Linked DNA regions of Homo sapiens. The protein of the gene in region 2 binds, or shares a complex with, the protein of the main gene of each other region. Each region holds a gene or a part of one and is shown on either strand. Other genes may lie near its edges.

Region 1 (6,877 bases), on a different chromosome or scaffold from region 2:
ATATGCAGTTTATTTATTCCAGTGTCGAATAATATTCTCTTGGAATTCTCTGTAATTACACTGTCTTTACTCACAGATAGGACACTAAGCAAATATCACTTCCAAGATATGCCTTCTGAATTAACATTTAGAAGCTCAAGTTTGTAGGAACCAAAGGTAAGGCCAGGTACCCAGGGTAACTACATGTGTTTGCCTCTAAACCAAGAGAATTTTAAGCACTGAAGTAACCATGCTGATCAAAGCTAAATCCTTTAGGAAGATTATCCATTCTGAAATCAGGAAAATCCTGCAGTATAAGCACTTTCATACTTCACCTTTGAGAAAAGAACTTGCTTTCTGTAACAGTGTTTAAAACACATACAAGACTTTCTTCCTCCCAAGGCAGAAACAAGCAACTGCAAACATGTGTTTTTACATGCTGATGACCCTCTAAAGGTACTTCTATCTCAGCACGGGGACCATCCTCGGGCTCACACTAAAGAAAAAGAAGAATTCTATGGATGGAAGATTTCTTAATCGGCACATCAGCTCAGAACATTTGCACCTTCTGTCTTTAGAATAAACACTCTACTGGATCACATTAAGGATAGAAAGTGAAACTCACACTCATTTACTAAATTTTAAACTCTCTTTAAAATAAGATACCACTCTCCCCACAGCCTTGCTTGAGTTTTGCAAAAACTCAGATTTGTGAATATCATGTAGGCATCCTAGAATTTAGTAAAAAGAATATGAAACATCTTTTCACTGACACATGACACTGTCCTCTCCAAAGTTCCTAAGTTTAAGGACTAAATCGAGGCTCTAGATGTTTTGTTAAACTGTTTTTAGCATCTGAGGCCACCAAAAAGTATCCTGGTTACTTTGAACTATACTATTGGTTGAACTTCCCTTTCCCTTTAGCAGTATCTCTGTCCATCACACGGAGGGTACCACTTAGCCTCTAAACTTGCACACAGCTGCTTCCCAACCATGGTTCAATATTTGACAGCTGTTTAGAAACTAGCCCTAGGCAGAAGCATGCAGGAAGTTAATAGAATAGTGGTGTGAAGCAATGGCCCTCTATGAGATCAGCTTGAAAGCAAACAATTGGCCACACCACAATCATCCACTGCTTAACACATCAGTCTTCTGATCTGCAGGACAACACCTCTTCCTGAGCTGCTCTAAGACACAGGTATTTACCCATCAACTGCGTATCTCCAGTCTACTTAGAGTAAGCTGCACTGGGCCTTTCTGCCTGGGGAAATCTGCTAGTGGCATGAAGACTGACCCATGTTAGTAGAAAGGGAAGGTGGAGATGGGCAGGCAGAACAAAGACCTGTAGATGTCGGAGAGAATGGCAACATCCAAACAGAACCTTTCTGAAGTGGTCTAATGTAATTTAATAAAGCAAAGTCAACATACGTTTCTACCTCTGACTATTGGAAGCTGCTCATCCCTGCCTGATGCAATCAACACATCTCACTCTGACACTCAGGACTGAAGGAAAACCTGGGATTATTCTGTCCATATTGCAAGTAAGTTTTTAAGCTACATCCTGGAAAAACCCAACTGTCTACCTCCTACGTCCTGGTGGTAGCTGCTATAAAGAGCTCCAGGGGCAGAGAAGGTTGGGCATGGTTTTCTAAGACCACTCCTATTGGGCTCTTCCCAATTAATGCCACATAGCAAGCAGCACAAACCTTACTCTGTGGCTCAAACGAAGACTTTGGAAGCATAAGCAGGGCAGAAGACCTGGAGGAGTGCTCTGGCCAGGCAACACCTAGGCGGCCCAAGCGTGGAAATGTTCCTCTTTTATCAGTACTACCCAAAAATGTCTGAATCGATGATTTAGTTTTAGCTACTGTTTTAACAACATGGCCACTTAGAAGAAAATTTCTAAATCTTTCGAGGCTTAAGAATATAGTTACCCCCCCCCCAAAAAAAAAAAGGCTGAAAGTCTTTCTCTTCTATCTACATGACTTCGCCATCTAGGTTACCGTTGGGAGCACCTGGTCAATCTAGGAGCTGACTTTGTGGAGGTGTGGAGGTGTAATTTAGGAGTTGGGGGAAGGCGGCACTTTTGGTCTTTGCAGCTTGGAAGGCAGGCACCCAAGCTCCAAGCACTTCTGGGTTTCCCTAGCAGTAGCAATTACAACCATCTTCTCTTAGCCCTGAATTATACATGGGACCCCAAACACCGCTGGGGCTTTTCCTTAGGGAAAACAAACTGTCGTGAATGTCGGTGTGTTGGTGAGGGCATGTATGTACCTCTCTGTGTGTGGTCTACACCCGCCGCTACACAAGCCTCAGCAGCCAGTGAGAAATAAGTTGAACGTGGAAGCCCCCGGCCACTTCGTTTGTCTTAAGCCCCGTCGCGCTTTCCAGCTTTTGCCTCTACCCAGCCTCCCGAAAAATAAGGCACCAAGTTGCCCGCGGCAGCGGCCCTGGGTGCAAACGGAACCCGCGCAGCCCCTACCTCGAAAGCTTTGCAATCTTCACAAAGCTGAAGACATCCATGCAGGCAGCTGGGGACCCCCGAGCGCGACAACTCCGTCGCCCCTTCTCACGCCAGCAACAGCAGCCTCCGCAGCCCCATGGCCAAGACCTCAGTGCGCCCGGGGCTCGAGTCGCGGCGACAGCGGGTGGCGGCGGCGGCCGGAGAGAACCTGCACCTGGAGGCGGCGGCTGCTACCCCCCTCCGGCCGCGAGCTGCGTGTGCATCCCCGAGCAGGACCATTGATAGGCACCCGAGGCAGGAAAACTCAATGGAGAGGGAGCCAGGCAGGGCGCAAGAGGCGGGGGCGGGGAGCGCGGCCCGGGTCTCGCGCCCCGCCCCGTGCGCTCTAGCCCCGGGGACTGCCGGGCGTCCAGAGAAAGCGAGGCCTGGGCGAGAGGCGCTGCTCTGGCTTCCCGGCCCTCGGACCCTCGTGCCCCACGCACCGAGGAGCGCAGACGGAGCCGGGAGACGGCAGGCGAGCTGGGCACACGCGCACGCACCCCTCGCAGCACTGCAGCTGCCTCCCTGCCTCCTTCTCCAAGCCGAGTCCCTGCTCCTCTCCCCACCCCCACCCGCCCGGGGGGAGGGGGCACTCTCCTGTCACCCACTGCGTGTGCCTCTAGATCTGAAGGATCTGGTCTAACAGTCTATGGCACACTGGAGAACTGTGAACGCTACCCCTCCCTCCCCAAGCCGAAGGAGAGCCGTGCAACCGCAGGTTGCTCAAAGCCTCGGTTTGCTCCGTAAACAAAACTAGCGTTCGGAAGGAGCAGGGATGATTGAGGTTGGGTCGTTTGTCAAGGGGAAGGGAAGGGAGATGCCAGGCGCAGCGGGCTCGATTCGGGGAGCTCAGAGTTCCCACTGCTTCTCCCGAATCGCTGGGGCGAGACGTGACCACTGGGCTGGCTGGGAAGGTGTGTCTTTGGACAGCAGCACCGCGGGAGTGTCTGCCAAATAAGAACCGGAGGCATTTGCGGGTAGGGGGATGAACACAGCTGCTCCCTCCTCGAGGAGCATAGAGCGGAGGGTCCCAGGAGCCCGTGATGCGGAGGCTAATTCTAACCGGGCTCAGAATCTAAGGAAAGAGAAGGATTAGAATGGGGTCTGCCACGCAGAGCGAGCTGCTTTTGCACACTGAGCCTTGGGTGAAGGGAACAGGGAAGAAAAAAACAAAACAAAACAAAACCTTGCCGGAGAAGCAAAAACACAGAAACATAAACACTCACCTTAGGCAGAGTAAACTCCAAGTTGCAGCCATCTAGAACTCCTCCTAGCCTTCTCTTTTACATAATTACCTTGGATAATCAGCCCTGTTCATTAACTCAGTTCTACCTCCTGGGAGGCTCAGGCTTCATTGGGCCCCTTTTTCTTCTTCCTCTTGAAGTCTCAAGGCCTCTTCTCCACAATCCTTTAAAATTTCCCCCCAGACTGTGAAGGTCAGCTGGCCGCACTAAGTGTGTGCTCTCCCACCGGCAGCGTTCACCTGGCGGCAGGGCCACCGCAAAGAACAGAGAGCACCCCCAGAAATGTTGGAAGATCCAGCCAGTGTTCCAGTCTAGCTCTCCGAGGGGATTAAGAAAGAAATAGGTTTAAAGTTCCCACACTTCTGCTCCTCTCCTGGTCTGTTGTTATATTTAAAGTCTTCAGTATTCAAGCCTAGTACTAAAGCGTTTTTTTTAAGCATTTATTTCAAAAACTGAACATAAAATAAATAGCAATCTGCAAAATCTAAATGACTTAAAACTCAGGCATAAAATTACATGTTTTTGAATACATAGTTATCAGTTTTCCTGCAGCTTCTATTAAACAGGCTAGTTTAATTGCATGAACGCAGTTACTACTCAAGGATCGGAAGGGGCGAGAGGGACCTTGGCTTTTGAACTCTATTGTTTGTAAAATAATTATAGTTTGGGTCTGCACTGTGCTTTATAATTTTTAAAGCTTTTTTTTGCATTGGAGTCTCATCGCAACCTTTTCATATAAGGCAATATATTTAGAAATCTTTTATTTTTATGCCATAATCTATTCTCAACATACCAGACAAAAAGATGTTTTGTGTGTGTGTATGTGTGTGTGTGTGTGTGTGTGTGTGTGTGTGTGTTTTAACGTAGATCACATAAGGCTACTTGTCTGATCTAAAATATGTAAAAGCTCCCCATTGTCCGTCAAGCTAAAGTTGCGCTCCTGCAAGGGCCAACAGGACCCTAGATCCCGTATCCTTTGATCTTTCTTACCTCAACTATTACTGCCCACTTCCCTCTCCCGTTTTTCTCTGTCCCTCCTCATCCCCTACCCCGAGCCCCTCCTCTCTCACACACATACACTCACTGGGCTCCAGCAATTCTGGACTTCTTGCTATCCTTCAAACTCTACAGGTAATCTTCCCACCTTAGGCTCTTTGCAATGGTTGTTCCCTCAGCCTGGAATGCTCTTTCCTGGGATATCTGCATGGCCGGCTTCTCCACCCTGTCAAATGTATGCACCAATACCACTTCCAAAATGCCCCCTCTAGAAAGCCAATTTAAAATTGCAAAAGGTTCTCACACCCTGGACTCCGAGTCCCTATTAACTGTTTTATTCTTTTTTCTTGTTTCCATAGCATTTATCACCCACTAGCACACTATATAATTTATTTTTATCTTTAGGATTTCTTTTTTTTTTTTTTGGTCTGAATCTCCCACTGGAGCTCCACAAGGGCTGGGATCTTTGTTTTGTTTTGCTTTTGTTTTTCACTGATGGATCTCAAATGCCTAGACCACTTCCCCAGATGTAGAAAGAACTTAAGAAATATTTGTTGAACGAACAAATCATATGCCCATTGGATTCACAGCCAAACCAAAGCTGGCCAAGCATCCCCAGTGAGTACTGATCTGTGTATGACTTCGTGGCTTACATCTGTCTCTTTCCCCACCCATCCACTTCCCCAGCATCCTTCAACCTCCTTTGGACTGACTGTTAATGATGGCAACAAAGGCCTTCTTACATTCTCCAGTTATTTTCCCCCTTCACCTTTTCTACCTTTCCCCCAAAAGAGTGGCCACCGACACGTTCCCTCATCTCTGAGTCAACATCTGGCAGCACAAGACCAGCTCGTGATTGGGAAAAGGGGATAAAACAGTGCCTTTGGAGAATGTGTTTTGAAAAAGTGCTTCCTTCTGAGAAGAGAACAGTTGGGATGCTCTTTTTAAAAGGATTACCCTATTTATCAATAATTATTCCAGATACCAAATATCTAATTATTCAACAGTGAAAGTGACAGGAAATAGACATTGTGTTTACTTCTAGAGAGACAGCCTCCCTTGGAGACATCTGGTCTACCTGGAACAGCTTGCTGTTGGCCTTCTCCCTGTGCCAATTTGTGCGCTACGGTTATGAATGATGCAGATGCCATCTCTCCACAGCATAATAGCTACCAAGGGAAATGACTGACTTCTACAGGTCTTTACACACCTCTCATATAGTAATTATCTAGTATGTTTTCTAATGGATTGATATTGTTTTCTAAAGCAAAGAGATTCCACCCCTCCTCCTTTGTTTCTCATTAATACAACAATGGAAAAAGCTGCTCCCTTGAAACATGCTAACACAGAGTGTTTATATCTTTAAGCCATCTTGGCAGAAGGGCAGAGATTGGAGTAGTTGGTCTCTCAGCTCTGTCCCCTCTCTGTGCCAGGTGTGTGCTGCAGAGGTTAGGATAGGTTTGTCTAGCATGAACTAGATCTGCCTAAAACAAATAAAAGCCAAAAAAGTGGGATCCTGAGTACATATGTGGTTTTCTGAAGTTTTCTTATTAACCTGGATGATCTCTAAGGCCCCTTCTGGATCTTGTAGGGATTTACTAGTTGGAAACTGTATTATCCAACCTTGAGAATCTACTTAATTTGCTTTACTTAGGTTCAAGTGACATTTGGTCATTTCTGAAAACCAGACACACTTTCAAACACTGTTGAAAGTACTCATGAATAAAAGACTCAGGGTCACCAGATCCAGAGCAAGTCCTATAACTTCTCTGAGACTCAGTTTCCTCAGCTGTAAAATGGAAATAATACATCTTTACCTTACACAAAATGAGCACTTGAAGTTGGCACCAGTTTACAGTTGGCTACATATGAGTTGAGGCACATGAATATTAGCTCTAGAAGGATTTCCACAGCTGTCTGCAGCCTTGGCAGTACTGGTAGGAAAAGTTTCAGCCTGTAAGATGACTATTTAGGAGGCCCAACATTCGCTTGGATTAATCAGAGGTAGGCACTTTTGCCTAAAAATCAAACACTTTGTTGCCTGGGCAGTTACTAAAGCCCTAGGCTGTAGCATTTTTTATGCCCCGGGGGATTCTCAGGGGGAAGTGTGAGGAGCTTCATCATTCTTAAGGCCTTATCTAAAGCTGGTGTTAGG
Region 2 (7,024 bases):
TTTCTTGAGCCATTCTTTTCCCTTGACTGGAATGCCTTTCCTTCATTTGGCTAATAAGATCTACCCATCCTTCAAGGTGCTGTACAAAATTCCTTGCTTCCAAAAAGTTTTCCCTGGTCCTTTTCAGTTAGAATTATTATTCCCATATTATCACAAAACATTATTGAATAGAAACATTTATTTTCCCACAGAATGGTGATAACTTTTGGGAAGAGAAGACAAAATCATGTTTAATATATTTTCCTATGGAGAATTCTAAACTCAAACTCTCTAGGGACCCTTTCTAAGCATTTATAATATTTCTGCATTTGGGATTTATTTCTGCTTTAAAATGTGTTTGGGTCAGGTGCAGTGGCTCACACCTGTAATCCCAGCACTTTGAGGGGCCCAGGTGGGCGGATCACTTGAGACCAGGAGTCGAGACCAGCCTGCCCAACATGGCGAAACCCTGTCTCTGATAAAAATACAAAAATTAGCCAGGCGTGGTGCTGGGCACCTGTGGGAGGCTGAGAGAGGAGAATCACTTGAACCCAGGACGTGGAGGTTACAGTGAGCCAAGATGGCGCCACTGCACTCCAGCCTGGGCGACAGAGTGAGACTCCGTCTCAAAAAAAAAAAAAACAATGCTTAGTGGAAAGGACCATTTCTTTTCTATTTCACTATTGAGCTTTAAAATTATGTATATGTATTAATTGATTGAAGCTGATGACTGGACCATCGTTGGTAATAATAAATGGCTATGCTTACCAAAAAGGTTTATATATAGTTCAGATGATCTAACCTGGTGGCAAGAAAAGTAAATTATATTTATTGTCTGATGAATGTTACCAGTTTGTGTAGATCCATGGATGGAAGAAACAGACCAAAAACAAACAAAGAAACAGACCAAAAGTTATTGGCATTTAAGTGGCAGTCAGGATCAGATAGTTTAGATAAATTCGAAGAAGCACAAAATGTAACCTGGTTTGCAAACTTTTTACTGCCAGTGGAGTAAAGCAGGGCTAGGATTTCTTTGATAAAGAGCTAGCCTTTCTTGTCTGCTCTGATTGCATACCTTGGACAGTGCCTGGAAGTCCACCTAGCTGTCTAAAGGGAGTCTGTCTATTTTGACTTCCTAATCAGATAATTAAATGTGAGGCAGTTAGAGTTATGTACTAGTTGATCTTTCTATATGTCTCTGTCAATTCCCGGGATATGGAAAAAATGATTGCCTTTTCTTTATGGTTAGATGCCGTGATCTAGCAATTTTGTTAATTTTGAGGTTTTTGGAGCATTGCTTGGAAGATGCTATTAAGAGACAGATTTGTTCCTTGCAGATTGTTAGTTGTAAATAGTAGTGGAGGTTGGAGGTTGAACTTGATGACTTCTCAATATCCTTTCAAACCTACAAATTATTTTCCAGTTCTTCGTCCTGTGATTAAATTTTCTTATCCTAATGATCAAATTTGTAATTTAATATTTGTTGCAAATTTTACTAGTCTTACACTATATACACACACATTGTATCTAGGAAGTAGGTTTGTTAACTCCATGTAATGAGGAACATGAGTGAACACATTATTGCTAAATTGGCTAGAGAGTTCTTAAAACATGAATCATGAATCAAGAATTGCTTGTTTGTTCAGTGAATATTTTTTTGTGTGAAGTGCTACCTAATTGTTATGGAGATTGTAATGTAAGAGGCACTTTTAAAGATATTCTTCCCTTGAGAATAGTAAGACTATATTATAAATTGCTCTTATTGAAATAGTGAATAGCATTCTGTCTTCTTGCTTATTTTAATGGTCTTAGAAATGGTTCTTTCTACATGCAGTTTTCATCAAGTAAAATATTTTGCAACTTTATTTATATTCATTTACTTATTCGTTAATTTGTGAAACATGTAAATGCTACATGTTTACATCTTAAGGAGTATGAAATTAACATTTTATAATTGCAAAATTTAGAATTTCATTAAGAACTCATGGATGAGAACAATATTTTGTTTTATTTTTTTAGAGACAGGGTCTCACTCTGTGGCCCAGACTGGAGTGCAGTGGTGCAATCATCGATTACTATAACCTCCAACTCCTGGGCTCAAGCAATCCTCCTGCCTCATCCTCCCAAGTAGCTGGGGCTATAGTCACAGGCCACCACACCTGGCTGATTTTTCAATTTTTTGTAGAAACGGGGTCTTGTACGTTGCCTGGGCTGGTCTTGAACTGTTGGTCTCAAGTGATCCTTCCACCTTGGTCTCCCAAAGCACTGGGATTACAGATGTCAGCCACCGGGCCTACCTAAGAAAAATATTTAAATTTAATATCAGTATCTGTGGGGAATTGGTTCCAGGACCCCCTGAGGATACCAAAATCCATGGATGCTCAAGTTCCTTATATAACATGGTATAGTATTTGCATATAACCTATACGCATCTTCCCACAAACTTTTAATCCTCTCTAGATTATTTATGATACCTAATACGATGTAAATGCTATGTAAATAGTTGTTATATGGTATTGTTTAGGGAACAATGCCAAGGAAAAAAGTCTACATGTTCAGTAGAGACACAACTTTTCATTTTCTTTCCTGAATATTTTTGATACGCGGTTGGTTGAATCCACTATGCAGAACCCACAGATCTGGAGGACCTACTATAATTTAATTTAATTCTAAGGTAAGTTAATTCTAATACCTCTCTTTCTGCTCCATTTTATAAATAACAGCCCAAACCTCATAGTGGATAACGGGAGATAATATCATTGCCAGTTTAGCTGTTTGTGTAATCTAGACGCCTTTGGAGCTATTGCAATGAGTATCCACACTAATTCCCTTTATTAATTTTTTTATTAAGGAAAAAAGAGGCACAGTGGAATTCTGAACAAAAGGAAAAGAGATTTGATGTGTTGATAGCTGCTATTTGATGTGTTGATAGCTGCTACCTTTTTGTTCTTTCTTAAAATACTGCTCCCTAGCCCGTGCTGTGGCATGCACCTGTAGTCCCAGCTACTTGGGAGGTTGAAGCGAGAGGATCACCAAGAGTTCCAGGCTGCAGTGTGCTATGATTGTGATGTGAATAGCCACTGTACTCCAACCTGGGCAACATAGCAAGATCCCATCTCTAAAAAAACAAAACAACAACAAAAGATAGTGCTTCCTTTGTTGGCCAAGGGAAGAGATAAGAGGAGTACTATTTTGTGTTTCTTGCAGGCTAAACTTGTTATTAATGTGAAAACCTCATTTCCTCTTGGAAACTTCATCAGTATTCCCAAGGCTGTTTCTTTCTACCTTCCCTCCTTTCACCTTCTGCTCTGTTCCCTATTAACTTCTAGCTGTACTTAATTAACAGAGCAGTGAGTATTCATTAGTCTGGTTTATGATATAGCTGAAATACTTAAAAGGATGTTATATAGAAGAGGAATTAGGCTTTATTGTATATGGCAGCAGAAGGAAGAAGTAGAACAAATGGGTAGAAATGGAAGAATTGCTCAAAGTATGGAACGATTTTCTTACAGGAATATTCAAAATTAAGATTAGCTGCTTTATGACCTATGTAGGAATGCTATAGTAAGATAGTGGACTAACTGACCTCTAGGATTGTTTATAACACTGAGATTCCAGGACTTTATGATTGTATATCTACCAATTTATCTCATATATGTATATGTATATCCTTCTTTGTCTTTCTCAACTGTTATCTCAGAGGTTATAGTTTATGTCTGATATGCTGTAGCTCTCTCTAATGTATCGGTATGGATTCATTTTTATTTAAATATTCTCAGTCTTTATCACTGAAGATTTTACCTTTATTCCTCTCTTTTTCTTTCTCACCCTCCTATTAGATATATTATAGAGCTGCTCATTTTGTCCTCCTTTTCTCTGAACTTCTCTTTATTATTTTTCATCTGCTTATTCTTTCTTTAGCTGCTTAACTAGTACATTGAGGGTTTGTTGTTGTTGTTGTTGTTGTTTTGGTGGGGGCAGACAGAGTTGCACTGTGTCGCCTGGGCTGGAGCGCAGTGGCATAATCTTGGCTCACTGCAACCTCCGCCTCCCGGGTTCAGGCTCACTGCAACCTCCACCTCCCGGGTTCAAGTGATTCTCATGCCTCAGCCTCCTGAGTAGCTGGGATTACAGGCTTGCATCACCACACCTGGCTAACTTTTGTATTTTTAGTAGAGACAGGGTTTCACCGTGTTGGCTAGGCTGGTCTTGAACTCCTGGCCTCAAGTGATCACCTGTGTCTGCCTCCCAAAGTGCTGGGATTACAGGCATGAGCCATTGCACCTGGCCCTAACTAGTACATTGAGTTATTAATATCAGTGTTCATGGTAGTTTTTTGTTTCATTTTGTTTTGGGGCAGGGTCTTGCTCTGTCAACCAGGCTGGAGTGCAGTGGCATGAATATTAATACTGTTAGTAACAGCAATCCAAAAAACTATAATCCAAATGTCCATCAACAGCAGAATGAAAAATACATTTGGTATACAATGGAATATACATGCAAGTTGTAGCTATGCACAACAATTGAGAAAAATCTCAGAAACAACGTTCAGCAAAATCATATAAAACTAAATGGTATCTTATTTAGGACTATACTGACATTCGTGTTAAAGTTGTAAAGACAAGCAAAGGAATAAGGAACAAAATACAGTTTAGAAATCACCTTAGAGGGAAAAGGAAGGAGATGGGTTAGGTTGGACTACCCAGGAGACTTTAAAGGCAGGTAATGTTCTTATTTTAGACTGAATGGTGTTATATAAATGTTTGTTGTGTCATTCTTTTTACCATATACATATTTCCCAAATGTCTTTTGTACCTACCCAATATTAATAAAAAACATTTTAAAGACCTTAAAGAGTTTAAGTAGAATATATTTTGAAAGCAAATGAATCCAACTATAACCGAAGTATCAGTGTGATATCTTCTTTGAAGAAATAAATTTACTGAGTTTGGAGTTGACTATTTCAAATAATTATTGAATTTTCATTTGATTTGTTAATAGTAGTTTTTAAAAGTTTGAAGCAGCAATTTTGTTTTTAGATGCTAATATGATACATACTGTTCTTTTTTGTTTATAGCAGAAAATATTACATAAAAGTATTAAATTTCAAACATATTTTAAAAATTACAGTTCTCAAATCTCATCTATTCCCACCCCTATTTAGAAGCTCCATGATGACAGTTAAGCCCTGTGCTATCTTCTGTATTGATTGACATGACAGCAGTCTGCAGAGTTAGCTTGTGATTATGTACAGCTCAGGGTTACTGTAGGTTGTTCTTTGAAAATAGGACTTCAAGCAAAGCATCTTGTATTCCTTTTGCAGAAATGTTGCTGAAGTGCTGCTGAAAGGGCCAGAGATGCAAGGATTTGGGATACATTTTGAACCTTTAAGCTGTCTGACATTGACCTCCTTTCATTATTAATAAAGAAGAATCAGGAGCTTAGGATGTATTAACACCAACTCATTAATATACTAACCGGACAATGTTCTACAAACAATTCTACATTGTAAAGGACTGGATTGGCACAAAATAAAATAATTTTATTTTATTCAGCTTATAATATGACTCGATGGAGGAAAATTTGATAAGCATGAGAGAAGACCATTCTTTTCATGTTCGTTACAGGTAAGACTATTGCTGTCTTAATGGATGACTTTTAATCCTTATTTTAAAGTGTTTTTAACTCTGATGACCATTTCAAGTTTCAGTTGAAAATACTCAAATATACCAGCCATAGTATTGTCTGTAGACAATATTTTCTTTTTGTTGTAAGTTTTCCTTTCTGTAAGAAAATGATAGTAGAGACCAATTATGTACTATGGTTTGTTTAATGTTCTCTGGAAGAGTTTATGAATAATTTCTTTATAATTTGTAACTTTTTATGTAATGCAAATATGTAAATGAAATATGTTTGAAAATCTTTGGGGCTAAAAGGTGGATTTTTTAAAAATGTGGTCAGCTGAAGGACCAAACCTTTGCATTGTAATTTAATGTGATCTTTTAGACATGAACTTTTTATTTTTGATTTATTTTTATTTTTTGTAGTGTATTGTTTTGATTCCCTTCTCATTTCCTTTTTTTGTATATTTTTTATTTTATTAATTTTACTTTTTCTATATTATCAGAGATGGGAGTCTCACTATATTGCCCAGGCAAGTCTCAAACTCCTGGGCTCAAGCAATCCTCCTGCCTCAGCCTCCAGAGTAGCAGGAACTACAGGTGTGTGCCACTGCACCTGGCTTTTTATTTTATCTTTAAAGGAAATTTTATTTCACAACCATTATTACTGTTTTAAATATGTACCTAATCCACATTAATATAAATACATTATTATTAAAATACAAACAAGCGCTGTTCAAAAGAAATGTCATTTTTAAGCTTAATGTCTAGTGACATTTTGTGTTGTTTTGCTGATTTAATACTTAAGACCACATTTTTACATGAAGTAGTGGTTTGGTAATCCCTAATTTACTCCAGAAAGCAAGTCAGGCTGAGGAAAGGCACCCACATGCATTCTCTCACAAGCTTCACGGTCCCTAGGGAAATGGCCTGGCTCCTCTAGGACTTACAGTGTTCCCTTGGATGCCCAAATGGATTGTCTACATTCCTGGTAGAAGGTTGCAGATTGTAAGGACCAGTGTTCCCACCTTTGTTCTGCATCCACAAGTGTCTTTCACAAATACAACACACTCCCTTTGGCTACACCTTATATATAATAGGTTATGCACATGTATGTGTGTTGGTGGGGGTGGATGCTTCCCACTGATCTAGATCAGGATCCAAATCAGACATACACATCAGGAAAGGAGGGAAGATAGCCAGGAAGTGATAGCTGGGCAGAATGAAGGTACAGAATGGGCAGGTCTTCCTGATTTTTCAGAAGAGCCCAGGAAATCTGAAAATCTGAAGAGTGTGTGTGTGTGTGTTTTTGTGTTTTTGTTTTTTTTTTTTTGGAGACAGTCTCACTCTGACGCCCAGGCTGGAGTGCAGTGGCACGAGTTTGGCTCACTGTAACCTCCGCCTCCCATGTTAAAGCGATTCTC

The links.
Region 1: the proteins of GPSM2 (region 2) and FRMPD4 are in contact, whole or in part, in a crystal structure (PDB 4WND), measured with the Homo sapiens proteins. Residues at the interface, in NP_001307967.1 of Homo sapiens: Leu25, Ala28, Leu29, Glu32, Asp57, Lys59, Thr60, Ser62, Ala63, Ile64, Ser66, Gln67, Asn70, Phe73, Tyr74, His85, Asp88, Ala92, Gly100, Lys103, Asn107, Asn110, Thr111, Lys113, His128, Arg143, Tyr146, Asn147, Asn150, His153; in NP_055543.2 of Homo sapiens: Gln988, Leu989, Leu990, His991, Ser992, His994, Met995, Glu996, Met997, Glu998, Pro999, Glu1000, Thr1001, Met1002, Glu1003, Thr1004, Lys1005, Ser1006, Val1007, Thr1008, Asp1009, Tyr1010, Phe1011, Ser1012.

Annotation. Positions count from the first base shown.
Region 1 is NC_000023.11:12,134,597-12,141,473, reverse strand, and holds the start of FRMPD4 (FERM and PDZ domain-containing protein 4), read right to left. Parts: upstream 3,002-6,877; 5' UTR 2,503-3,001; coding exon 2,462-2,502; intron 1-2,461. UniProt on the Homo sapiens protein: Positive regulator of dendritic spine morphogenesis and density. Required for the maintenance of excitatory synaptic transmission. Binds phosphatidylinositol 4,5-bisphosphate.
Region 2 is NC_000001.11:108,879,973-108,886,996, forward strand, and holds part of GPSM2 (G-protein-signaling modulator 2), read left to right. Parts: intron 1-2,503; exon of another isoform or gene 2,504-2,653; intron 2,654-5,302; 5' UTR 5,303-5,550; coding exon 5,551-5,606; intron 5,607-7,024. UniProt on the Homo sapiens protein: Plays an important role in mitotic spindle pole organization via its interaction with NUMA1. Required for cortical dynein-dynactin complex recruitment during metaphase. Plays a role in metaphase spindle orientation.